4 linked regions of the Homo sapiens genome follow. The protein of the gene in region 1 purifies or fractionates together with the protein of each later gene. This does not show direct contact. Each region holds a gene or a part of one and is shown in the gene's direction. Other genes may lie near its edges.

The links.
Region 2: the proteins of TBC1D15 (region 1) and SLC30A9 purify together in Homo sapiens (co-immunoprecipitation; 3 studies listed by BioGRID and IntAct, with this or other methods). This does not show direct contact.
Region 3: the proteins of TBC1D15 (region 1) and ATF6B purify together in Homo sapiens (co-immunoprecipitation; 3 studies listed by BioGRID and IntAct, with this or other methods). This does not show direct contact.
Region 4: the proteins of TBC1D15 (region 1) and UBXN8 purify together in Homo sapiens (affinity purification with mass spectrometry; 4 studies listed by BioGRID and IntAct, with this or other methods). This does not show direct contact.

Annotation. Positions count from the first base shown.
Region 1 is NC_000012.12:71,919,744-71,924,828, forward strand, and holds the end of TBC1D15 (TBC1 domain family member 15), read left to right. Parts: intron 1-969; exon of another isoform or gene 970-987; coding exon 988-1,104; intron 1,105-1,624; coding exon 1,625-1,711; intron 1,712-3,239; coding exon 3,240-3,461; 3' UTR 3,462-4,570; downstream 4,571-5,085. UniProt on the Homo sapiens protein: Acts as a GTPase activating protein for RAB7A. Does not act on RAB4, RAB5 or RAB6.
Region 2 is NC_000004.12:41,986,645-41,993,558, forward strand, and holds the start of SLC30A9 (proton-coupled zinc antiporter SLC30A9, mitochondrial), read left to right. Parts: upstream 1-3,885; 5' UTR 3,886-4,007; coding exon 4,008-4,116; intron 4,117-6,914. UniProt on the Homo sapiens protein: Mitochondrial proton-coupled zinc ion antiporter mediating the export of zinc from the mitochondria and involved in zinc homeostasis, zinc mobilization as well as mitochondrial morphology and health.
Region 3 is NC_000006.12:32,118,235-32,125,264, reverse strand, and holds part of ATF6B (cyclic AMP-dependent transcription factor ATF-6 beta), read left to right. Parts: intron 1-3,916; coding exon 3,917-4,002; intron 4,003-4,140; coding exon 4,141-4,276; intron 4,277-4,362; coding exon 4,363-4,494; intron 4,495-5,307; coding exon 5,308-5,441; intron 5,442-6,123; coding exon 6,124-6,309; intron 6,310-6,398; coding exon 6,399-6,490; intron 6,491-7,030.
Region 4 is NC_000008.11:30,739,550-30,747,184, forward strand, and holds the start of UBXN8 (UBX domain-containing protein 8), read left to right. Parts: upstream 1-4,614; 5' UTR 4,615-4,640; coding exon 4,641-4,728; intron 4,729-4,778; coding exon of another isoform or gene 4,779-4,911; intron 4,912-7,635. UniProt on the Homo sapiens protein: Involved in endoplasmic reticulum-associated degradation (ERAD) for misfolded lumenal proteins, possibly by tethering VCP to the endoplasmic reticulum membrane. May play a role in reproduction.

The DNA of each region.
Region 1 (5,085 bases):
TAAGCATGTGGGAGTTGTTTATATCCTACTGCTCAAGGTCATCACCAAGGTCTGATTGAAAAATTCAAAAAATTGCATCCTCAGGCATAAATGGGTTTTAAAGGATGAATTAAGAATATTATTACCACATAGCTAGAATAACTCCTCAATCTGTGTTTACTAAATAAATTCAAACTTTTAATGAAACCTTTGAGGTTAATTGCATTGTAATTAAACTTTCAACAATTGGGTTTAGTTTGAAAATTATTCAACTTGATTTACTCCTTTTGAAAGAAGTAAACACATTTCGGGTATGATCTCATGGTATGGTTTGTGTGGGTGTTTTTATCTTTGTGGAAAATATATTATTAGGTACATGAAGCAGGGGGAAATTAAGACCCTAAATTCGAGGATATTATCTGTATTTAGGAACAGCTGAGCTGTTGATCAAGCGTTTTCTATGTTTGGTTATAAATTTGGGGCAGTTAATTCAGTTATTGTCACAATCAGGGATAAAATGTGATACAAGGGTTTTACGTATTTAGAATGTAGAGCTACCTCTGGGTGTTTCTGATTCCATGTACTGTGTAACTGAACCTTTTTTTATTTCCAGGACTTAGCTTTAGTCTTTTCTCAGATCGAAGTGAGAAACTGATACTTCAGAAAAATATTGAAAATACATCTAACCCTTACACCTTAACCTTGTGTCTGTAGCTCCTGCATTAATAACATTTATCATACTGGTTAGGCTCAGTAATTTACTTACTATAGTTACCTTAAAGAGCCACATTTAGAATATATCATATTCATATAAACTCGATGATAGTTACTTTGTAGCTGAAGGTAAGACTCTCCTTCCCCTCATTTCCTAGCTAGAAAAACCTTGGGCTACCCTAAACAGGCAACATCTACTTTGCATAGAAGTCATTCAGTGTTCAGAATTGTATCTGTGAGGAAAATGTTTTAGAATTGATACAATTTGCAAAATAGTTCTTCTGCCTTCTATAGGTAATGTGGACCGAACTACCATGTACAAATTTCCATCTTCTTCTCTGTTGTGCTATTCTGGAATCAGAAAAGCAGCAAATAATGGAAAAGCATTATGGCTTCAATGAAATACTTAAGGTAGTTATTCCTTTAATTCAGATTTTAGTGTTCTGGCTTTTCTATTTGGTGGTCCTGATATACAGAACGTTTCCTTGGAACATTATTAAATCTCTTGAGTAACTTAAATTGTGTCAATAACAGTGCTAGGAATGACTATCTGAGAATGACAGTTCAAATACATATTGGCCAGTTATTTTTACCTGGCTAATTAGGAAGAAAAGGAAATTCAACAAGTGCTCTTTTATGTAGTTTAGTTTTTCAAAAATTAATTGTCTTTTGATTATAACTTTGAGATATCAGACTTGGAATAGCTGCTGGATTTAATGTTCCATAAGCTTATTAGCTAGTCTTTAGCTTTAAAACTTGAAATAATCTAAAGAAAGATATATTGAATTTCTTACGTATTTGTAGTATATGAATGTTTTTATTTTAAGGATTTTATCTGCAGTGAAATATAACTGGTAATAAATTGTTTATATAATAGAATATAATAGTGTATTCAGTTTCGATATCATTTTATTTTGTTGATACTTTTTAGCATATCAATGAATTGTCCATGAAAATTGATGTGGAAGATATACTCTGCAAGGCAGAAGCAATTTCTCTACAGATGGTAAAATGCAAGGTATACAGTGTTTCAAGTAATTGCAAGATTTGTTTGTTTTTGGTGGGTTGAGATCAAGAAAGATTTTTCTTCTTGGAAATAAAATAGCAACTTTAGTAAGCTGAGGGCAGGCACAAAGTATTGGCTGGCTTTTTGTTTGCTGTTCTAGATTTACAGCACTTAATTGAAAACAGTTGACTATGGCAGATAGGAAACAGCTAATAATAAGGCAAAATGGTAAAAGTAATGAAAATATTTCTATAACAAAGAGGCTGTAGAATTTCAGCAATGATATATTACCCAGTTGAGCTCATGAATGCAGAATAGGCTGTCATATTAAATATGCAGAATCTCTAAACAAAAATGAATGCTAATCAGAAATAATTAAATCAATATTATTTAGCCTGTGTCACTCACTTATATTAGTCAAGTTATTAATTATTTTAAAACAAGGCAAATTTGATGTATTATCTGAATTTGAACCAAAGCAGTATACTTTTGATGTGTTTTAGCTTTTTCTTTCTATTAAGAGAAAGGGCCTTGCTAAGTTGCCCAAGCTGGCCTTGAACTCCTGGGCTCAAGTGATCCTCCTGCCTTAGTTTCCTGAGTAGCTGGGATTACCAGTGCATGCACACCACTGTGCCCACCTCATGACTTTGCTTTTTTTTTGAGACAGAGTCTTGTTCTGTTGTCCAGGCTGGAATGCAGTGGCGTGACCTCGGCTCACTGCAACCTTCTCCTCCTGAGTTCAGTCGATTCTCCTGCCTCAGCTTCCCGAGTAGCTAGGATTACAGGTGCCTGCTACCATGCCTGGCTAATTTTTGTATTTTTAGTAGAGACGAGGTTTCACCATGTTGGCCAGGTTGGTCTAGAATTCCTGACTTCAGGTGATCCACCCACCTCGGCCTCACAAAGTGCTGGGATTACAGGCGTGACCCATCACGCCCGGCCATGACTGCATTTTTTTTTTTTGATACTTCAAGTTCTAGGGTACATGTGCACAACATGCAGGTTTGTTACATAGGTATACATGTGCCACATTGGTTTGCTGCACCCCTTATGACTTTGCATTTTTATGAAAATTCTTGCTTGGTCCTTGTATCATTTGTTCATTGATCCAAACTGTTACTTGGTTCAGTTCTACAAACATTTATTTGATACCTGTTCTCTTCCAAAGCATGTCAATGAGATACTTCTTGCCTTGAAGAACTTTGTTTACTGAGAGAGACAGATGATCTAAGAAAGATATTATTACAAAAAGTAGAAAGAGATAAATGCCAAATATTAGGACATGCTATGTTTGTGGGAATGTGGAGGTGGGATGGAGAGTGACTAATTTGGAAGATATCCAAGAACCACTTAGGGCGAAAGGTGGTTAGCATTTCATTTGGAGCTGAGAAAAATGTTGTGAGAAGGGTACATGACATTTACACTGTTAGGACAAATGCTCAGATTCTGGAATCAATGTAGTCTTAAACAGAAGTGTTACTTTGTGGTTATTTTTCCTCTGTAGTGAAATATGGTTTTGAGTTTGATTTTTCATATCCAGGAATTGCCACAAGCAGTCTGTGAGATCCTTGGGCTTCAAGGCAGTGAAGTTACAACACCAGATTCAGACGTTGGTGAAGACGAAAATGTTGTCATGACTCCTTGTCCTACATCTGCATTTCAAAGTAATGCCTTGCCTACACTCTCTGCCAGTGGAGCCAGAAATGACAGCCCAACACAGATACCAGTGTCCTCAGATGTCTGCAGATTAACACCTGCATGATCACTGTTCTTGCTTTTTTGGGAAGAGACACTTTGTTGCAACCCTTTTTCAAGTACTTGAAAGTTGAAAATTTGAAATCTTGGTATTGATCATGCTTTAAGGTTTATGTAAAGAAAGTGTACTGATGTTCTTACATTAAAGCTTTACAAAGATTTAAACTAATTATTTTTGTAGTTACTTCTACCAAATAGCCTTTCCTTTTCGATAACATTCCTCAGTATTTTTATAGCCAAGTACATTTTATTTTCTTGCTGATGAACTGGAATTGGATAAATATTGCAAGTGGATGAGTTGGAAATTATGCACTTTGAAAAACATTCACTTTGTTTAAGCTTATTGGGTTTCAGATTTGATTAAATTAAATGTGGAGGCTTTCTATAGCATTCTAAGCTGAGAAGTAGATTGTTACCCAGTAATGAAATAAAAAATAAAAATAAAAGGATTTTTTTCTCTATTGTTTACGACAGTACTCAGCTTAAATATTTATGCTGGTCAAATGTGATTTAAATTGGACATTTTCATCAATGCAGTCTAATGTGTAGATAAATATTTCAACCATAATAAGTGGATTGGCAGTATATTTTTTACATTGAACTTTTCTTCACTTGTATATAAAGATTATATATAAGTACTTATTTATGAGTATAAGAAAGGTTAGGCATATTTTCATTAACTGAATAAACGACTTGATTTATATAACCTGGTTTATCAAAATTTAACATGGCTTCAGTATGAGATCTTTTTCAAAACTATTTTCTTAAACATTTATTTCATGAGATTATGTTCAACCCTGTACCTGGTGTAATTTTAAAATTAATTGCTTGTAACCTCACTTTACTAATAATGTTTATTATCTTTCCTAATAATGCATTAACTGATTAATCAGGTGTTTAAATTTTTATAAAATACTCTTGCAAAAAGTTTATTTGAAAAATTTCTAGATGGTCTCATGAGTTTCAAAATAATAATTTTTGTGTATGAACAAAGCTGTTGTTTTTACCATGCAGTATTGCATGATTTTAAGTTATGTGGAATTAACATAACTGATTTTGTTTTAATTGTAAGTTGTTAACTCCTGTATATATCATTAAAATAAATCTGAAGTTGAAGTAGTGTTTTTAGTTAAATTATACTTAGAAATAGTCTGCTTTTTTAAAATTTTTTTTCTTGAGAAAGAGTCTTGCTCTGTTGCCCAGGCTGGAGTGCAGTGGCGCAGTCCTGGCTCACTGCAGCCTCCGCCTTCTGGGTTCAAGCGATTCTCCTGTCTCAGCCTCCCGAGCAGCTGGGACTACAGGCTTGTGCCATCGCGCCTGACTAATTTTTGTATTTTGAGTAGAGATGGGGTTTCACCATGTTGGCCAGGCTGGTCTCGAACTCTTGACCTCAAGTGATCCACTCGCTTCAGCCTCCCAAAGTGCTGAGATTACAGGTGTGAGCCACTGTGCCCGGCTAATTCTTTAATAGAAGAAAAAACATCCAAGATGGACCTCAATTCATCTCTTATTTTTATATGATTAAAATGATAATCTGGCCGGGCGCGGTGGCTCACGCCTGTAATCCCAGCACTTTGGGAGGCCGAGGCGGGCGGATCACGAGGTCAGGAGATCGAGACCATCCCGGCTAA
Region 2 (6,914 bases), on another chromosome or scaffold:
ATTATTCCAGCTGTAATATGAATCTTGTTCACTACCCTCTAAGGAAAAGTGTGTGTATGTGTAATTTTTTCTCCACCATACCAGGTAAATTGCAGAGAAGGAGCTTTTATTGGAGAAGCTAAGAAGTGTTGAATAAGAGAGCTATGATCCAGGAATACAGTTATCATTGGAGAAATCATTCTCCTTTTCTTGGATGGAAGTGGCAAAGAGTGAACGTAAGTTTAATGGTAGTGGACTACTAAATGGCTATTTGACAAGATAATTGTGACAAAAAAAATCCCACAAGTAATTTCATAGGATAATGTCAGAGGGAAAACCTGTAAGAACAAGCCACTCCTTCCTTCTCTCCTCCTCTGCAATGCTCACTCAACCATGTAAACTGATTTGGAGTTAGAGGACCTGAGTCTGATTCCATCTTCTGTGACATTCTTGCTAAGTGAACTGTAGAAAAAACCTTTCACCTCTCTGAAAAATGGAGACGAGGATTAGCAACCTGGTCAGACCTGGTCAGAAACCACATCAAGTGCATGTTTCATTTCTTTTGCATGTTTGCCTTTACAGGCCAAATGTGTCTGTGCAGACCCTTATTGCTTCTGACCATTGTTGTACAGGAGAGGGGGTGTGACCAGGTAATTCTTTTTACCCATGTATAAGCCAGTTTTGTTTTCTGTTTGTTTTTTTTTGGTACAGATGGGATCTTATCGTGTTGCCCAGGCTGGTCTTGAACTTCTGGCCTCTTGCCTTAACCTCCCAAAGTGCTGGCATTACAGGCATGAGCCACTAGCACCTGGCTATAAGCCATTTTCTTTCTTGCTTCTTTTTTTTTCAAGACAGAGTCTCACTTTGTTGCCCAGGTTGTAGTGCAGTGGTATAATCTCGTTTCGCTGCAACCCCCACTTTCTGGGTTCAAGTGATTCTTATTCCTCAGCCTCCCGAGTAGCTGGGATTACAGGTGTGCACCACCACTCTCAGTTAATTTTTGTATTTTTAGTAGAGAAAAAGTTTTGCCATGTTGGCCAGGCTGGGCCATTTTCTTATTGAAGTGTTCAGGTGGGCAAGCTCCCTCCTCCCCCACTCCTAGAGGCAAAGAAAAAAAAAATCGCCAAAACGTGATGACAACAAGTATGTCTGTGTTCAAAATTAAATTTGTGTTTTTGGTAAGCCTCATGATAGAGCCACTTACTTTATTTTGTAATGGATTATCTAAGTCAGTTTTCCAGATAACCAGTCAAGTTTGTCTCAAGATCAGAGTTATTTTCCCAAAGCTATAGACAGGATGAAACCAAGCAATAGTAGTTAGCTCAATTGCACAAGCAAATTTCTGAAAGATGTTGGAACTTCTTCAGAGTTAATGGAAAACCTTGCAGGAATTATGGTGTATGGTAATAATCAAATGACACTTCACTCCTTTCCTACTTCTGTTTCTATCTATCTGACTTAATAGTTCCCTATATTTAGGCATCTATTTATATCATGTATCCTCATGAAACTTGGACAATTTTATACCATGTTGATCACATGAGTAAAAAATATCTGGGGAAATTCTCTCTTAACCTACATTCCAGGAAAAAAAAAATAGGAACACCATATTATCATTCAAGTCTTTTGAGAAGACATCACATTTTCTTCCAAAGGCAAGTACCCATTGACTTAGAAAGAGTGGTGTTTAAGATCAAGATCTTTGTGCCTTGGTTTCTTCGTCTACCTATAACTTATTTAAGGTATTATGAATGAGACAGTGTACACAGAGGGCCTGGCAATTAGTAAATGATTAATATTACTACTGCTGCTATTAGTTTTAAATTATCAATATATTTATTTATAAATTTGCTGCCTCTTCCAATAGAAAATAAGCCCTATGATACTAGAATCTTACCTGTTATGTATAGGTAGGCAACGCTGAATGTGTCTCAAATGGAGCATAAAAACAAAGTCTCTTGGTAAGGATGGGATTTAGGGTCAAAGGAAATTCCCCTAAGGAACTCTAAAACTGACATTATCTTAAGTTTTAGCACTTGGGGAAGTTTCAAAGACTTTCCAAAAGGATAAGTATATCATGATATGTAGGTATAAATACCAAGACAACTGCAGAGTTATTTTAATCCAAGTCTGTTGAGGCTTTATTATGTGATACAGCATTGTGAGAGTTAAGGTAACAGAAAATGATACACTTTGTTCTTCAAACTTATTTGGCAAATCAAGGGTACTGGAGGTTTATAACAATTAGTAGTGTCTAAGTCAAGTTACACCCCAACTATACCAGGAAAAAGAAGGACAGGAAAGCACACACTGTGAAATTTTACTGTGCACCAACATATTTTACACATCAGGTGGGCTGTTATGGAAATTAAGAACTCTGCACAAAATGTATTTTTTTTAAAAGTTTTATCAAGAAAGGAACATTTTCTTCTAAAAATGATTAGTACAGCTAAACAAAATAAAAATAATAATCCTATCGCACAAATTAAAAATAAAACCTGAGAAGTTTTGATCAGGCTTGCCTAAAACGAGTTGAAACCAAAGCCATTTTAAGAATCCAAAATATGAGATTAGTTTTGTTCAAAAAGAATTATCCATAAAAGTTAATAGATGTTTGCATAGTTACCATAAAATAAGAGGTAAGCCTTTATGTATTTTTACTTCATAAAGTTGAATTTCTATTAAAATCTATTACAAGAAAGGGAAAGTAACTTTCCAGTAATATTCAGATTTTTTAGTAATATTGAGCCTACATTTATGGGACATCATTTTTTAATGTTTGTCCACTGAATATTTTAAGTTATGTTTGTCATAGGAAATTAAATTTGCTTACCATTCTTAACGATAATCTCTTTCCTCATTTGGTTATACTTATCTCAATTAGTATAAGAGACTTGTTGATTTTTTTAAAAATTAAGGACATACTAAATTTCCCCGAGATAGTTATTTTGCAGTAATATAGATAAGCGACTCAGATTAACTTTAAAACAAACCACCATACATTCCATTCAATTTATTTTTGCCAGGCATTGTTTTAGCGGCTTTATACAGCCATGTACAAAATAGACAAGATTCCAGCATCATGATGCTTATTTTCTATTCTAGGACACAAAATAGAAAAAAAAATCTCAAATAGTGATAAGCGTTTTGAAGAAAAGTATATAGGACAGCCGGGTAGAGAATGACCAGGACTACCATAGCTAGGGTGGTCAAGGAAGGCCTCTCTTGAGTTTGAGTTAAGAGCTGAATGAGCATGGCAGAGAGAAACAGTTAACGTGGATACTGTTCAGGTTTCTTTCTCCCTGGGACCAAAATGTTTCGAAGTCTGCATACCTCCGTTTACCCTAACTTGTCATGAACATAAAACCTCTTATATTGCAGGCAAAAATCTGAGGTTCACAGATTAGTAGGGCAAGTAGCTGATTCCGAAGTGTGTACTTGCCTTTATGATACTGGATACACACTGGTGTTAACAAGGAGAACGATGTACGTGGCAGACGTTCGGAGAGTACTGGACATGTTGGTTCTAATTTGGGTTTATCCTGGCAGGCTCTAGGTAGAGAGGCTCAGAAAACCTGCGTCCATCCTTCCCATCTTTCCTCCCATTTCCGAAACCACGGCCCCGGTTTCGAGTCCAGAAAAAAAGGAATAAGTAGAACTCCCAAAGGACAGCTTTCCTGGCTGAACAAGATGTAAACAGTTTACGTGATTTCCAACCAAGCGCAAAAGTACAGGTGCAAAAGAAGACGGCAGACACCAAACTTCCCCTGCAGCCACGCCCTCCCCACTTTGGGAGTCTGGGTCCCCGGGAAGGAAGGCCTCCCTATTGGTGCTCAACGTGTTACGTCACTTCCGCTACCTCCACGGCAGGCGTCGCTAAATGACGTTGCCGTTTCCGGGTCACCCAGGCAGCTTGTGGCGGCGAAGCCATCGGTGTTCGCTGATGTCCAGTCTATGGAGTCAGTTGGTACCGGTGGCGGCGCGGAGGCAGAAGGCGGTGTCCGAGTAGGGGCCTCTGCCCCACCAGGATGTTACCCGGCTTGGCCGCCGCCGCGGCCCACAGATGTAGCTGGTCCTCCCTGTGCCGGCTCCGTCTGCGATGCAGGGCGGCGGCCTGTAATCCCAGCGACCGCCAGGGTGAGTGTCCCGCGCTGGCCGCTGGCTCCGTAGAAGCCGAACTGGAGGGCCAGGCTGGGCTCGGCGCCTCGCCTGGGGCAATTCGCCCACTTGCCTTTCGCCAACCTCAGAACCTTCCTTTCTGGCCTCCGCCTTTCCAGTTCAGCCTGCGCAGCCCGCGGGGGTCCTGACAGGTCTCTGACTCTGATGCCTTCTGCAGCCCTAGCATGGCCCCCGCGGGAACTTGTGGGCACCTCGCGGGCCGGATTGCACCTCTGAAGCCTACCGCTTTGTACCAAACAAAATGTTACGTGCGCATCGCGGTGTCCCGCGGTTACTCACCTCCGCGGTTGGAAATTGCGGACTCCGCAAAGTTCCAGGGTCTTTGGAGCTTTCCAGCGCACCTTCATTTAGCACTTGGTTGAGATTTTCTTGGCCTTCTTTTTCTTACTCTCCCAACTTATTTTCTTAAATTTTCTAAAAGGAAGGAGGGGTGCTACTCACTACGGATCTTTTGGAAGAAGTACGAAAGTATCCGACAATCATTGAATGAACCCAGTTTGGGTCCGAAAAACAAAGAAACTCTTCAGTTCGGCTGAGCAGTCTTTTTGGTGAAAAGGTGGCAGTTGTAGTGGTAACCCAGAAAAAAAGGTGGTTGAAGAGAATTTTCGTCTCTCTCAACATTCTTTTCTGACTCAAATTTAAATGGTTTGAGAGTTTCCAAAATAACATTGAACTAATCAGGCTTACCTTCGTTTTTGCCGTAGCTTGACACACATTGCTTGACACTGAGAACTGATAGGATCTCTGAGGGAGAAGACAGAACTAAGTCCACCCTTAACCTAATCCCTCCATTCTTGGGATGCAGAGAGTATTTACCGAAACATTCATGTTCGAAGCCAGGTGTGGTGGTGCGCTCCTGTAGTCCAGCTACTCGGGAGACTGAGGCAGGCAGATCTTTTGAGCCCAATAGTTCTAGGCTAGCCTTGGCAACATAGTGAGCTGTCTGTAAAAACATAGGTTTGAAAAAACCTGTAACATGTTCGTGACCTCCTGAAAGAAGTCGGAAGTTGCAGTCATTCGAGATTTTATGTAATATAAGCTATAGTAACTATGCTGTGGATATAAATTAGAATATATTCGTATCTTTTATTTGCAATAAATGTAAAGCTGAATCTTAGAATTTCAAACGGATAAATTTTAACAGCACTATTCCCAGGGCTTTTTTGGTAGTGATAGAAAAGTGTAACTGTTGAGTTTTTCCATATTGGCAATATACTGCCAGGTTCCCTTATGGACAGAATGAATCATCGGCTGGGTGCAGTGGCTCATGCTGCTAATCCTCAGGAAGATTGTAAACCTTAGGACGCTGAGGTGGGTGGATCGCTTCAGCCCAGGAGTTCCAAGACCAGCCCGGGCAACATGGCAAAACTGCCTCTCTACAAAAAATTAGCCTGGTTTGGTGACGCGCGCCTGTAATCCTAGCCTGTACTCAGGAGGCTGAGGTGGGAGGATCGCTTGAGCCCAGGAAATTGAGGCTGCAGTGAGCCTTGAGCATGCCAGTGCACTCCAGCCTGGGTGACAGAGTGAGACCTGTCTCAAAAAAAAAAAAAGAAAAGAAAAAGAAAAATGAATCATACGTTTATACTGTACTCCAGAATCCCCAAGTAAGTTTCTAACACAATTGTTTCTATTGACCAAGCAATTTTGGCATTTTACACTGAAATTACAGTGGCTGTTAAATTTAGTCTAAACTGCCCTTTAAGTGTTGGCAAAAAGGAGAAGAAACAGTGTAATTTGTAATCCCTCTTCTGTGTAGCTGTCATTATGTTGAAAATTATGTATTCTTTGTCTCATCTGTCTGTGAAACACAGATAATTATTACCTACCTTAGTGGTCAAAATGACTTTGCAAAGTTGTTTGGAATGTTTATTACTACAAAAAATTAAAATTTTTTTTACACTTAAAAATGCTTAGTAGGTTTTTAAAAATAACTTTGTGAAAATTTAGTTTCAGTAATGAAGCATTTCTTAAAAGGGCAACCATTATTATGGCAAAATTTAAAAATCATTTAGAAAAAGAGTACTATTTAAATTGGATGCATGTGAGAAGACTATTTGAAGAACTTTTGGAGAAAGAAAATCTAAAAACAGTTGTTTTTATTTGTCTAGAAGTAAGGTTTAGTTTATGCTTCTAAAATGCCTGTGGCTGGGAAAAGCTTATAAAGCATAAGGAGAGGAGGAAACCTTGAGGGATTGCTTGAATACTTAAAAATGAGGAATGCCTTTAAAGGCAAAATAGAAACTGTCTAAAAGAAATATGAGAGCCCTGTTTGTAATTTTGAGTTGTCTGATAGCCACATTAAAAAAAGTAAAATTAAAGATGAATTAATTTTAATATATCCTAGAATTAATTTTAATAACGAAATTTATATATTTTAATAATAAAATATATAAAATTTAATACTATTTTATTAAGTATATTCAAAATATTTCAACATGTAATCAATATCAAAATTATTGAAGTATTTTACATCATCTTTTTGTACTGTCTTTAAAACCCAGTGAGTATTTTACACTTTCAGCACATCACAGTTCAGACTAACCACGTTTTAAGTGCTCAGTAAACAGTGACTACTCAATTAGATAGTGTAGTTAGAGTTAGTATCTAAGTTATAAAGAATTTTTACAAACCAGTATACATTCCAGTAGGAAAATGGACAAAGGAATTGAATACAAAGTTCATAAAGTTGTTCAAGTGGCCAATAAAAATGCAAAAATGTTCCATACTGAAAAACAGAGACTTTAAAGGGTTTTACT
Region 3 (7,030 bases), on another chromosome or scaffold:
AGCATGCTGGGAATGCAAAGATGAACAAGACCTGACCACCATGCTGACTTTCAAACCCTGTGATTTGGTAATGGGAGAAAGACAAGTACCAGTCAATACAGGTGTGGTCATTCTAGGATAGAAATCACTAGAGGTGGGGCTGGGTGTGGTGGCTCATGCTTGTAATCCCAGCACTTTGGGAGGCCGAGGTGGGCGGATCACGAGGTCAGGAGATTGAGACCATCCTGGCTAAGATGGTGAAACCCCGTGTCTACTAAAAATACAAAAAATTAGCCTGTAGTCCCAGCTACTTGGGAGGCTGAGGCAGGAGAATGGCATGAACCCGGGAGGCGGAGCTTGCAGTGAGCCGAGATCACGCCACTGCACTCCATCCTGGGCAAAAGAGCAAGACTCCGTCTGGAAAAAAAAAAAAAATCACTAGAGGGTACCATGAAAGCTCATAAGAGGGGACATTTCATCCACATTGGCGCTGAATCTGGGATGTGCCCCTGGAAGAAGGGTTTCCTGAGAGTTTTAAAGGACACGTAGAAATTAGCCAGGAGGACAGTGTGGGGGTTGACTTGTGTCTGAGGACCCTGCATTTCTTCAGAGTGGATGTAAGAAGGATTTGGGGAGTGATGTGGAACTGCAGGGGCTACAGGGCCAGGTGGGGCCCCTGCTAAGGGGCTCTTAGCTTTTATCCTGTGGATAGGTGGGGGCCTTTGGAGAATTAAGCAGGGAAGTAATATGATTAGGAAGATGATTCTAGTGGCAAAGTAGAGAATGGGTTGCAGAGGGGCAGGGCCAGAGGCAAGAGAACCAAGGAAGAAGCTTATGCAGTTGATCAAGTAAGATATTCGGATGTCATGAAGAAAGCAGACTTGAGAAAGAATGAAGTGGAATAGATGAGTTGTGACCTCCTGGACATTGGAGAGAGGTAGGAGTCAAAGAGGTTTGTGGCTAGGATGGCTGTGGGTGGGTGATGTTACTGTTCACTGGATGGAGACTGCAAAAGCAGGGGCTTTCTGGTCAGGGAAGATGATGAATTCAGCGTTGGACATGTTGATTCTGTTGTTGTTGTTGTTATGGAGCTTCACTCTTGTTGCCCAGGCTGGAGTGCAATAGTGGTGTGATCTTGGCTCACTGTAATCTCTGCCTCCTGGGTTCAAGCGATTCTCCTGCCTCAGCCTCCTGAGTAGCTGGGATTACAGGCATGCTCCACCACGCCTGGCTAATTTTGTATTTTTAGTAGAGACAGGGCTTCTTTCATGTTAGGCTGGTCTTGAATTCCCGACCTCAGGTGATCCACCCACTTTGGCTCCCAAAGTGCTGGGATTACAGGCGTAAGCCACCATGCCCAGTTGACATGTTGATTGTTGATTTCAAAGTACCTTCTGGATCTCCTGGCACCATCTCTCACTGGCTGAACTCCAACCAGGGAGCCCGCTGATGCAGTCCATTCAGATTCTCCCTGGATCTCAGGGAGCACAGCAGGGAGGGATGGAAAGTGGATTTGGAGGGACAAACAGATTATATCTAGCAGATTAATACATGTTATAAAAAAGATACACAAAATAAGGATTGAAATACCATTAGCAGGCCAGGCACAGTGGTTCACACCTGTAATCCCAGCACTTTGGGAGGCCAAGGCGGGCAGATCACGAGGTCAGGAGATCAAGACCATTCGGGCTAACACAGTGAAGCGCCATCTCTACTAAAAATACAAAAAATTAGCCAGGCATGGTGGCAGGCACCTGTAGTCTCAGCTACTCGGGAGGCTGAGGCAGGAGAATGGGGTGAACCCGGGAGGCGGAGCTTGCAGTGAGCCGAGATCGCCCACTGCTATTAGCAGCAAAAGGATTGTAAGGATTGTTGGTGGCTTTGCATTGCATAGTGTTATTAGAGTCAGATTCTCCTCCATACTTAGGTATTTTTTGAGGGCCTGTACTTTACCCTCAATGGACATGAGACATAGTTCTTGCTTTTGGAGAGTTTTGTGAGGGTTATAATACATCATGGTTAAATAGTTCCCTTTTTTTTTTTTTTTTTTTTTTTTTTGAGACAGAGTTTTGCCCTGTCACCCAGGCTAGAGTGCATTGGCGTGATCTCCACTCACTGCAACCTCCGTTTCCTGGGTTTAAGCTATTGTCCTGCCTCAGCCCCCCTAATAGCTAGGACTACAGGCACGTGCCACCATGTCCGGCTATTTTTTTGTATTTTTGGTAGAGACAGGGTTTTGCCATGTTGTTCAGGCTGGTGTCAAACTCCTGGCTTCAAGCAATCCACCTGCGTTGGGTGTCGGCCTCCCAAAGTGCTGGGATTACAGGCGTGAGCCACCATGCCCAGCCATGGTTAAATAGTTCTGATAGTGGTTATCTCTGTGTAGGGAATCTGAGTGACTGGAGGACCGGGAAGGGAAGTTTTTTTTTTTTTTTTTTTTGAGACAGAGTCTCGCTCTACCCAGGCTGGAGTGCAGTGGCGCAATCTCGGCTCACTGCAAGCTCCGCCCCCTGGGTTCATGCCATTCTCCTCCCTCAGTCTCCCAAGTTGCTGGGACTACAGGCGTCCGCCACCACGCCTGGCTAATTTTTCTATTTTTTTAGTAGAGACGGGGTTTCACCGTGTTAGCCAGGATGGTCTCGATCTCCTGACCTCGTGATCCACCTGCCTCGGCCTCCCAAAGTGCTGGGATTACAGGCGTGAGCCACCGTGCCCCGCCAAGATTTTTTTTTTGACTTAATTTTCCTTTGTTCGTTTGGATTTGTATCATGACTGTATTATCTATTCAAAAATATAAATTGAAGTTTTAAAAAGCAATCTTAGTGATCATATAATTAAGTACCAAAGTGAACGGTATGGACCAGAGGTAGTGGTGGACTGTTGACCTGTGGGCTGAATCTGGCCCTCAGAAGGGTTTTATTTCACCGACATGGGGCCTAGCATTTTCTTTCATGGAGTGATCAACAAGTCATAAAGGCAGATTTATTGGAGGCCATGGAGGCTCAGAGGTGACTGAGGCTTTGCTGTTTGGTGCCTGGGAGGAAAACTTGTGTGACGGGGCAATCAGGAAGCCTCATTTATGGCCAGTTAGATTTGGGTGACTGGTGAGGCATGAGAATGGAAGGGACCAGCAGGCAGCTTGGAAGTCAGAATCTGGTGCAGGTGAGCAGCCAGGGGGAGATGCACACTTGGCGGTTGTCAGCATGGAGATGCATTGGGCAGGGATAAGGTGGAAATCCAGCAAGATAGGAATTTGGGCCATGTGAATGCTGGAGACCCCCCTGCCACTTCCCCTGCTCAGGCCTATTCTATGTGAATAGACAAGTTCTGTGAACAAGAAAGAGGGAAACGCAGAAGGGCAAAGACAGCTTTGAGGAACATGGAGCAGGGATGAGAAAAATCAGAGGAGCCACTAAAGGAGAAAGGGAAGCACTAGGCGAAAAGCGGGGCGGAGAGCCAGCAGGTGAGCAGCTCTGTGACTGCCCCTCCTGGATGGCCTGTAATCTAGGGCCAGAAGAGTTTTATTTTCAGGTTCAAAGAGAAAGGACCCATTTCCCCATCTTAACCCTCTTTTTTATTTTTTTGAGATGGAGTTTTGCTCTTCTTGCCCAGGCTGGAGTGCAATGGCGCGATCTTGGCTCACTGCAACCTTTGCCTCCCAGGTTCAAGCGATTCTCCTGCCTCAGCCTCCTGAGTATCTGGGACACAGGGATGCGCCACCATGCCCGACTAATTTTGTATTTTTAGTAGAGACGGGGTTTCTCCATGTTGGTCAGGCTGGTCTTGAACTCCTGACCTCAGGTGATCTGCCCGCCTTGGCCTCCCAAAGTGCTGAGATTACAGGCGTGAGCCACCATGCCCAGCCTCCCATCTTAACCCTCTTAACCCTTCAGTGTTTACATGATATCCAGCTTTTGCCTCATCCTGCCTCCCACAGATGTCCAGACCAAGATAGAACCTGTCTCTCCATGTTCTTCCGTCAACTCTGAGGCCTCCCTGCTCTCAGCCGACTCCTCCAGCCAGGTGAGCACCACCTTCCTTCCTTCCTCCAGGTTTTCCAGTGAGTTCCTCCTGACCTAGAGGTATGAGAGCTTTCCCTTCTTCAGCTCCTTCTCCTCGACACTCTTCCTGACTAATGTATCTCTGGAATGCCCCACATAGGCTTTTATAGGAGAGGAGGTCCTGGAAGTGAAGACAGAGTCCCTGTCCCCTTCAGGATGCCTCCTGTGGGATGTCCCAGCCCCCTCACTTGGAGCTGTCCAGATCAGCATGGGCCCATCCCTTGATGGCTCCTCAGGTAATGGAGTCTCCTGACACTTGGAATCCCTAGTGAGAGGCCTTTGGTCCTGACATTTCTTGTTCTTTTCTCTCACCTTCCTTCAGGCAAAGCCCTGCCCACCCGGAAGCCGCCACTGCAGCCCAAACCTGTAGTGCTAACCACTGTCCCAATGCCATCCAGAGCTGTGCCTCCCAGCACCACAGTCCTTCTGCAGTCCCTCGTCCAGCCACCCCCAGGTACTGAAGAAGGAGAAAAGGGCCGGGCATGGTGGCTCACGCCGGTAATCCCAGCACTTTGGGAGGCTGAGGCGGGCGAATCACCTGAGGTCAGAAGTTTAAGACCAGCCTGGCCAACGTGGTGAAACCTTGTCTCTACTAAAAATACAAAAATTAGCGTGGAGTGGTGGCAGGCGCCTGTAATCCCAGCTCCTCGGGAGGCTGAGGCAGGAGAATCACTTGAACCCAGGAGGCGGAGGTTGCAGTGAGCCGAGATCATGCCACTGCACTCCAGCCTGGGCGACAAAGCGAGACTTTGTCTCAAAAAAAAAAAAAAGAAAAAAGAAAAACCAAAAAATAAAAATAAAAATTAATTAATTAATTAAAAAAAAAAGGCCAGGCACAGTGGCTCACGCCTGTAATCCCAGCACTTTGGCAGGCCAAGGCAGGCGGATCACAAGGTCAGGAGATCGAGACCATCCTGACTAACACAGTGAAACCCCGTCTCTACTAAAAATACAAAAAAATTAGCCAGGCGTGGTGGCGTGCGTCTGTAGTTCCAGCTGCTGGGGAGGCTGAGGCAGGAGAATGGCGTGAACCCGGGAGGCGGAGCTTGCAGTGAGCCGAGATCGCACCACTGCACTCCAGCCTGGTCGACAGAGCAAGACTGCATCTCAAAAAAGAAAAAAAGGAGAAAAGGAGGCGGGCTGCATTGACCCTGTCAGAGAGCTTGCAGCCATTGAGGCTGCCCAATCCTTGGGTGCTCTTGTGTGGGTGTGGACACAAGGACCCCACCCAGCGCACAGCCCTCTGACCTCTGCTCACTTGCCCCAGTGTCCCCAGTTGTCCTCATCCAGGGTGCTATTCGAGTCCAGCCTGAAGGGCCGGCTCCCTCTCTACCACGGCCTGAGAGGAAGAGCATCGTTCCCGCTCCTATGCCTGGAAACTCCTGCCCGCCTGAAGTGGATGTAAGTGTTGGGGAGGAGAGAAGTAGGGCGAGTGATGGGAAGGGAAGAGGGAAGTCTTGCCATAGAGAGAACTGTGGGATGAGGAGGGAGTCGATACCTAGGAGAAAAAAGTGAGGAAACGGACCCATTAGATCATTCTGAGGGTCAGAATGGACTCCTGTTTCTATATGAATATCAACTCCAGGTAGTTTTAGGGTCCTTTAGGTTTGCTGTCACTGCAGATGGAGAAATGGGGTTGGTCTCCATAAATTAAAGGCAAGGAAGTCGTACTGTACTATACGACTACGGTCATGGCCATAGTTGGGGAGGGAGGCTGCCTCCTAGGGGAAAATCAGGTAAACTGTATAAGCAGTATAACAAGGTTAAACTTTGAACCCTACAAATGTGGGCTGACAGGAAGAAAGAGTTACGAAGGAAAGAGTTTCCACCAGCATGGAGAAAGTTCTTCCCACACTCTAACCTTTCCCACCTCTGAGGAGCAGTAGCAGGGAATGTTTGAAAGAAGGGCCCCTTCCCTAGCGTGTTTGAGTAGAGAGGAAAAACCTCTCTGGCTATGTAGGTGGGTCAGGAAGGCAGGGGAATGGCCATGTGAGCTTTGGGTAAATCATTCCTTGGGGTTTGAGAGCATAGTCTCCTTCTGCCAACTCATCTGTCATTCTTTTTTGACCTTCCGGGTGCCTAGGCAAAGCTGCTGAAGCGGCAGCAGCGAATGATCAAGAACCGGGAGTCAGCCTGCCAGTCCCGGAGAAAGAAGAAAGAGTATCTGCAGGGACTGGAGGCTCGGCTGCAAGCAGTACTGGCTGACAACCAGCAGCTCCGCCGAGAGAATGCTGCCCTCCGGCGGCGGCTGGAGGCCCTGCTGGCTGAAGTAAGACCAGTCTGTCCCTGGGAGACCAACAGGAATACAGCCTCCTTGGAATGATTCCCCTTTTTCTTGTCTCCTTCTTTGTACCTTAGAACAGCGAGCTCAAGTTAGGGTCTGGAAACAGGAAGGTGGTCTGCATCATGGTCTTCCTTCTCTTCATTGCCTTCAACTTTGGACCTGTCAGGTGAGACCTTCCTTGCTTCACTAGAACCTTCCAGGTGGAGCCCACGTTACAGCCTCCTAGCTGCCTGCTTTGGCCCAGGCCATTTCCTTCTGCTTATATACAAATGGTTCTGGTGTCCTTGGCACCGATGATGTGTCTGGCCAGCCCCTTCCTGCTCCATTATTTGTCTTTTTTTCTTGGAGATGGAGCCTTGTTCTGTTGCCCAGGCTGGAGTGCAGTGGCACGATCTCGGCTCACTGCAACCTCTGCTTCCTGGGTTCAAGTGATTCTCCTGCCTCAACCTCCCAAGTAGCTGGGACTACAGGCGCACGCCACCATGCCCGGCTAATTTTTTGTATTTTTTAGTAGAGACAGGGTTTCACTGTTGTTGCCCAGGCTGGTCTCGAACTCCTGAGCTCAGGCAGTCTGCCCACCTCAGCCTCCCAAAGTGCTAGGATTACAGGCTTGAGCCACCTCGCCCGGCCTCCTGCTCCATTATTTTTCCAGTGGAGAGTAGATGATGGTGATAATGCTGGTAGAAATAGTGACTATTAAGTGCTT
Region 4 (7,635 bases), on another chromosome or scaffold:
TAAAAATAAAATAAAAAAACTAAATCACACACACAAATGAGTATCTGTAACTGGTAAAATCTGAATGAAGTCACTGGATTGTGTCAATATATATTTCCTGTTTATGGTATTATACTGTCCTTATGCACAATTTTAACACTGGGGGAAATGGTAAAGGATTTATGCAATCTCCGTGACCTCTTATAACAACATGTGAATTTATAATTATCTCATAAAATGTTTAAAAAAGCATACAGTGTGAACAAAGCCTTATCCAAAGAGTACATTTTGTATAATTTACAGAAGTCCTAGAAGAGGCAAAATTAACCTATGGTGGAAAAAAATCAGAGCAATGCTTGCTCTCTGTGCAATGCTTTTTGCTTTTTGTTTTGAGACATGGTCTCTCTCTGTCGCCCAGGCTGGAGTGCAGTGTCACAAACACAGCTTACTGCAGCCTCCACCTCCTGGGCTCAAGTGATCCTTCTGCCTCAGCCTCTGGAGTAGCTGTGACCACAGGTGCATGCCACCACACCCAGCTAATTAAAAAATGTGTTTTTTTGTAGAGATGGGGTCTCACCATGTTGTCCAGGCTGGTCTCAAACTCCTGGGCACCTCAGCCTCCCAAAGTGCTGGGATTACAGGCATGAGCCGCCACGGTCAGTCAGTGCTTTGTATCTTGCTTGGGATTTAGGTTGCACTGGGTATGCATACATTGGAACTCAAGGAATGGTATGCTCATGATGTGTCCATTTCATTGTGTTTAATGATATGCACGATGAAGTATGTATATCATATGAAGTATGTGAAGGAAACCAGAAGGTGCCACCCCAAGATATGCCTCTTTGAGATAAAAATTATTTTTTGGCCAAAGGCAATTAAGGAGCAGAAAACAGGCCAGGCGCGGTGGTTCACACCTGTAATCCCAGCACTTTGGGAGGCCAACGCTAGAGAATCACTTGAGACCAGGTGTTCAAGATCAGCCTGAACAATATAGTAAGACCCCATCTCCTGGAAAAAAAAAAAAAGAAAGGAAAGAAAAAATAAAAATTAGCCAGTCATGGTGGCATGTGTTTGTAGTCCCAGCTACTCAGGAGGATGAGGTGAGATGATCGCTTGAGCCCAGGGGTTCCAGGCTGCAGTGAGCTATGCTTGTGCCACTGCACTCCAGCCTGGGTGACAAGAGTGAGACCCTTTTGGTGAGAATGGAGACACCAGTAACTTACAGCTTAACAATCACCAATGAGAACTAAGAGCTCTAAATCAACCTGATTTTACTGTTCCAGGAATTCTTACTCACGAAGATAGGCTATAGGTCAATCCATACCTTCATTCTGAGCTTTAGGAACTTCCCATTTATCTGGTCTCTAAGTTGCTCATCAGGCTGCAAAGCTTCCTTCTCAGGCACTGAGAAGTTGAGCTGATCATTGAATTGGGCAAATCACCTTCCTTGTCAAAAAAGAGGGAAAATCTAACTTCAATTTCTTCACCTTGTTGGGTGTACCGTCTCAAACTATTCTACCATGAACTATGTCCAATCCCAGTGAAATCTCCATATTGAAAAGACCACCTTAAACCACTCTAACTAGACTATAGAACCCTATAAAAATCGCCCTCTGTAAGGCCGAGGCTGGCAGATTGCTCGAGCCCAGGAGTTCAAGACCAGCCTGAGCAACATGGTGAAACCCTGTCTATAGAAAAAATAAAAAAGTTAGCCAGGCATGGTGACATGTGCCTGCAGTCCCAGCTACTCTGGAGGCTGAGGCAGGAGGACTGCTTGACCCTGAGAGGTCAAGGCTACAGTGGGCTGTGATTGTGCCACTGAACTCCAGCCTGTGTGACAGAGTGAGACCCTGTCTCATAAACAAATAAAAATCACCCTTGACGTCCCCTCTGAGACACGACTAAGATTATGTCAAAGCAATGTTCTTTTTTTTTTTTTTTTTTTTGAAACTGAGTCTCACTCTATTGCCCAGGCTGGAGTACAGTGGTATGATCTCACTGCAACCTCTACCTCCTGAGTTCAAGTGATTCTGGTACCTCAGCCTCCCGAGGAGCTGTTACTACAGGTGTGAGCCACCATGCCAGGCTAATTTTTGTATTTTTCGTAGAGACAGGGTTTCACCATGTTGGCCAGGATGGTCACAAACTTGACCTCAGGTGATCCACCCACCTCGGCTTCCCAAAGTGCTGGGATTACAGGCGTGAGTCACCGCGCCCGGCCACAATGTTCTTTTCTAATGCTGTAAGAAACTCAAATTTACTTACTGACAGGTTATTCTGGTGGTCTTTGGTGGGGAGAGCTAGCAGTTGCAGTGAAGAGAGTTCACAAACAACAAAGTTTGGGAAATGCTGGCTTCCCATATGTTAAGACAAGGTAAATTTGGATTGGTTAGGAACTGCCTTTTGTAGTCCAGAGAGAGATTCAATGGCGCCATCAACAGATTAAATTAGGTAATATGGAAGACCAGGGAGGAAGAAAAAAATACAGGAGGTAGGTGGTTAAGAACTGTAGAACTTCCTTTCCTGTCTTCCTCCTTATGCATGATGAACACAAGATACAGACTGTAGAACTTTCTTTCCTGTCTTCCTCCTTATGCATGATGAACACAAGATACAGACAACTATGGGAACATCTGAACTAGTCAATATAATTAATTATTTTATGGTATGTCATGCTGTAATTTATATTACCTCACCCTTACTGATCTTCAGATTGTGCCCTAATATTTTGCACCTTTGCTTGGAGGATAAAGTTCTTAGCCTATATACAAAGGAAAGCCTCTGCGGCCCTAGCAACAATCTACCTCTAAAAGCCTTCATTCAGCTTTATTTTATTTTTAGAGACAGGGTCTCACTATATCGCCCAGGCTGGAGTGCACTGGCATGATCTCAGCTCACTGCAGACTTGACCTCCTGGGCTCAAGTGATTCTCCCACCTCAGCCTCTTGAGTAGCTGGGAGCACAGGCTACGCCATCACGCGCAGCTATTTTTTTTTTTTAGACAGGTTTAGCTATGTTGCCCAGAGGGGTCTCGAACTCCTGAGCTGAAGCAATCTGCCTCCTTCCGCCTCCCAAAGTGCTGAGAATACAGGAGTGAGCTACCGCGCCCGGCCTCAAGCTCTAAACTGCAGCAATAATCACTGGTAGTTCCTTTGCACTCAGGTTCCTAAACTTGAAATCCCACCCTTCCCGGACATCCTTGCCCAGATTCCTAACCTTTGAACACAACGTAGGCGTGACTTCCTTTTGGAAAGCCTTTTGCAAGCCTTCTGGGTATGGTTCTGCAACACCCTGTGTATATCTCTATCATAGCACTCAGGAACTGCATTATGTTTATTTGCTTACAGGGCTATCTTTCCCAGTTTTTTTTTTTCTTCTCCATAGAACCACAAAGTCGGATAAGCTGAGTTTCTTGAGGACAAATTCAGTAACTTGTAAATATTTGAATATCCAAGAGTTGTAGAGTACCAAACTGTGGAGCTCAATAAATTTCAGATGAACTAAACTGAATAGTCAGGTGGGATGCTAGATGGATGGGTCAGGAAAAAGAATTTTCTTTTTTCTTGCAAAGTGTTGGGATTACAGGCGTGAGCCACCGCGCTTAGCCAGGAAATATAATTTCTTTCTTTCTTTTTTTTTTTTTTTTGAGACGGGGTCTCATTCTGTCGCCCAGGCTGGAGTGCAGTGGTGCAAACTCGGCTCAAAGCAACCTCCGCATGCGGGTTCAAGCAATTCTCCTGCCTCAGCCTCCCGAATAGCTGGAATTACAGGCGACCGCCACCACACCCGGCTAATTTTTGTATTTTTAGTAGAGACGGGGTTTCACCATATTTGCCAGGCTGGTCTGGAACTCCTGACCTTGTGATCCGCCCGCCTCGGCCTCCCAAAGTGCTGAGATTACAGGCGTGAGCCACCGCGCCTGGCCAGGAAAGATAATTTCCAAGTACGAAATGTTGTAGATTGGGAGGACCTCAGTAGCTTGGGAGAAGTGCACAGTGGTGAGTTATAGGACGGCAATGAGGTCATGGAACTATGAAGTCAAGGTTAACAATAACGCGTGCAGGCAAAACTGAAAAGGGGCGGAACAAGGGGTAGCGGGTCTCCAGGACCTGGCATTAGGACGTGCGTGTTAGGGGGCAGGTATTTGGAGCCAGGCCCCACTTTCGAGTTGTCTTTCCGCAGGAACCAGAGACTGCGGACGGGGCCAGGAACCAGGAACCGTTAGGGAGATAAGGAAGGTGTTATAGCCCACATTCATCCTATACGGCCACAAGGCCGGGGGGCCCAGGCTGCCTCCTCACAGCATCAGCTTTTTCTTCGGCTTCATTTCCCTCTGGAAAGCGCTTTCTCACAGACGCTGCAAAGACCGAAGGGGCAGCCCCTGCCCTGCTACCCTCCAGGGAGCCACCGCTCTAGAGCCCAGGCTCCTCTGGACATCATGTGACTTGGGGGACGACTTGCCTTTCTTCTGAAACACGGCTACAGACTATAACTTTAAAACACGGGGCTTAGCTCCCCCTCAATAACGACACGGCCGTCAGTATTTACCACGTTATTGACCCTCTCCCAGCCGGCCCGCGGCAAGAAGAGTTCCACTTCCTTCCCGGAAAACGCGGCCGGAAGGGGCGGGCTTTCCGCCTGCACCAGGCGCTTCCGCCACCATGGCTTCACGTGGGGTTGTTGGCATTTTCTTCCTCTCTGCTGTCCCCCTTGTGTGTCTGGAGCTCCGGCGTGGGATCCCGGATATAGGTAAGTGTGACTTTTTCCCTTCGACAGTCACAGCTGGGTAATTTTCACAGGAATGTTGCATAGAACGACCGCCTCTTCGGCTGCGTGGCTTCGGAGCAGCTTTGACTACAACTCCCAGACTGCATCGCCCCTGCCCCCCCACTTCCGGAGCTGACTTCACTTCGAGGAACCTTTTCCCTCCAGGTGTGATGGTTTTACGTGTAAGAGGGTAGAGGCAAAGAGCACAGGGGCAATCATAGACAGTGCTTTCGCATCCTGGCGAACACTGAAAAGGAAATAAACAGGTTGATAAGATGAAGGTCTTGTGAGAATTTAGGCTGAGAAGTTTTTTGTTTTGTTTTTAGAGACAGGGTCTCACTATGTTGCCCAGGCTGGTCTCGAACTCCTGGGTTCAAGAGATCCTCCTGCCTCGGCCTCTCAAAGTGCTGGGATTACAGGCCTACGCCACTGCGCCCGGCCCTAGGTTTAAATAAGGGGCCACGCCCGTGAAAAGCCAGTGGGGGCAGGGAAGGGATGGGGGAGGGGAGGAATATTTTAGGCAAAAAGATTGTGACACGTTGGAGGAAAAGGTGAAGGCCATTGTGGCTGAATCAAGGAGAGTTGGGAGGAGGAGGAGGAGGAATTGGCTCAGGATAATGACGTTTATTGAACACCTATTATAAGCCAAACACCAGGTGCTGGTTATTATCTCATTTAATCTGCACTGCAATCAGAGGAGGGTAGGCACTATTATAATCCCCATTTTACAGTTGAGGGAACTAAAATTTAGGGAGGTTAAGTGACTTCCCTAAGTTTTAAAAAGGTCACTCGATTCTGTATGGAGAATGCTTTGGACAGAAGCTATGGTGGAAGCAGTGAGGCACATCAGGCTTTGGAAGTTGACAAGTGGTGATGATGGCCTGGACTAGAACAATAACAGGAGATGAAATGTAGACAGAATTGGGATATTGACGGAGTAGGATCAACCAACAGGCTTTGTTTATGGGTTGATGTTTGGGGCAAGGGAAAGGAAGGATTCAAGGACGACTGCCTCATGGGGGACTGAGCAAACCTAGGTATTTGGTAGTGCTACTGGTAAAGGGGAAATGGAAAGAAAAACTGTGGAGATGCTGAGAATCATGAGTTGATTTTTGGACATTTCAGTGATCAGTTTACATGTCTGTCTCCCTTTTTAAGGTCAATTCTAAAGTTAGAGACCATAATGAAACTTGGCTTTGTGTACTCCCTCTCTTTCTCCACATTTTCTCCCTGCTCACAAGGAGTCAGATGCCTAGAAATGTTGCGTGCAATAAGAAATGAAAATAAAATGCTTTAAAAAAATGTACAAAGACTGTCCTGAAGCTTCTCACTCACTCAAGCTGTGTTGGAATATAACAAGACCTTTATCCAAAGGATCAGAAATGTTGAATTCACACTCACCATTTCCGCAATTCACCTGTTCCCTTGTCTTTTCAACATCCACCCCTACTCTGCTCATTTATTATTTTTTGAGACAAGGTCTTGCTCAGTCACCCAGGCTGCAGTGCAGTGGCACGGTCATGGCTTACTGTAGCCTGGACTTCCCGGCTCAAGTGATCCTCCCACCTCAGCCTTCTGAGTAGCTAGGAATACAGGGGCCACACCACCATGCCTTGCTTATTTTTTGTATTTTTTTGCAGAGATGTGGTTTTGCCATGTTGCCCAGGCTGGTCTGGAACTCCTAGGCTCAAGCAATCCACCCACTTCGGCCACCCAGAGTGCTGGGATTATAGGTGTGAGCCACCGTGCCCAGCCAGAAATATGCTTCTTGAAGGCAGAGACCAAATGGAATTTGTTTTTGTATTCCCAGCACTTACCAGTGTCTAGTTTAATAGAACTAGGGACAAGGGTTCTATAAATTGCACCTGGGCTCCTGGCAGCATCTTTATCTAGTTCTTGAAATTTTCATGGGATTAGCTTCTTTCTCAGAATTCTGAACGAATGATTGTTTCCTTTGGATTGTTTCCTCTTTTCAGTTTTCTTTTTTTAATATATATTTTTTCCTTTTTTTTTCTGCTACCTTTGGATTCTTGATAGTGAGCTTCCAATAATTATTTCTTAACAGTATTTAAGTCTGTTTTATACATCATACTTTATACCAGCAGCAGGGCTGGTTATGCCTATACTGATATTCAGACATATATTGAAAAACTAGCCTTGTCTTTTTCTACTGTGTAAAAACCTTTATTGTCAATACATTTTACTTGTACTTAAGCTAGATTTTTTTTTTCTTTTTTTTTTTTTTGAGACGGAGTCTCACTCTGTCACCCAGGCTGGAGTGCAGTGGTGCAGTCTCAGCTCACTGCAACTTCCGCCTTCTGGGTTCCAGCGATTCTCCTGCCTTAGCCTCCTGAGTAGCTGGGACTACAGGCATGCACCACCATGCCCGACTAATTTTTTTGTATTTTTAGTAGAGGCGGGGTTTCGGTATGTTGTGCCAGGTTGGTCTCCAACTCCTGACCTTGTGATCCACCCGCCTCGGCCTCCCAAAGTGCTGGGATTACAGGCGTGAGCCACCGCGCCCTGACTAAGCTAAATATTTTAAGGCCAGTTCCTCACGTTGAAGTACACTGCTTATGGGGTCTATAGTTTAAGTACACAAAAAAATCCCAGCACTCTGGGAGGCCGAGGCAGGCGAGTCATGAGGTCAAGTAATCGAGACCATCCTGGCCAACATGGTGAAACGCTGTCTCTACTAAAAATACGAAAATTAGCGGAGCATGGTGGCGCACGCCTGTAGTCCCAGCTTCTTGGGAGGCTGAGGCAGGAGAATCGCTGGAACCCGGGAGGTGGAGGTTGCAGTGAGCCGAGATCACACCACTGCACTCCAGCCTGGCAACAGAGTGAGATTCCATCTCAAAACAAAAACAAAAACGAAAAAACCTTAAA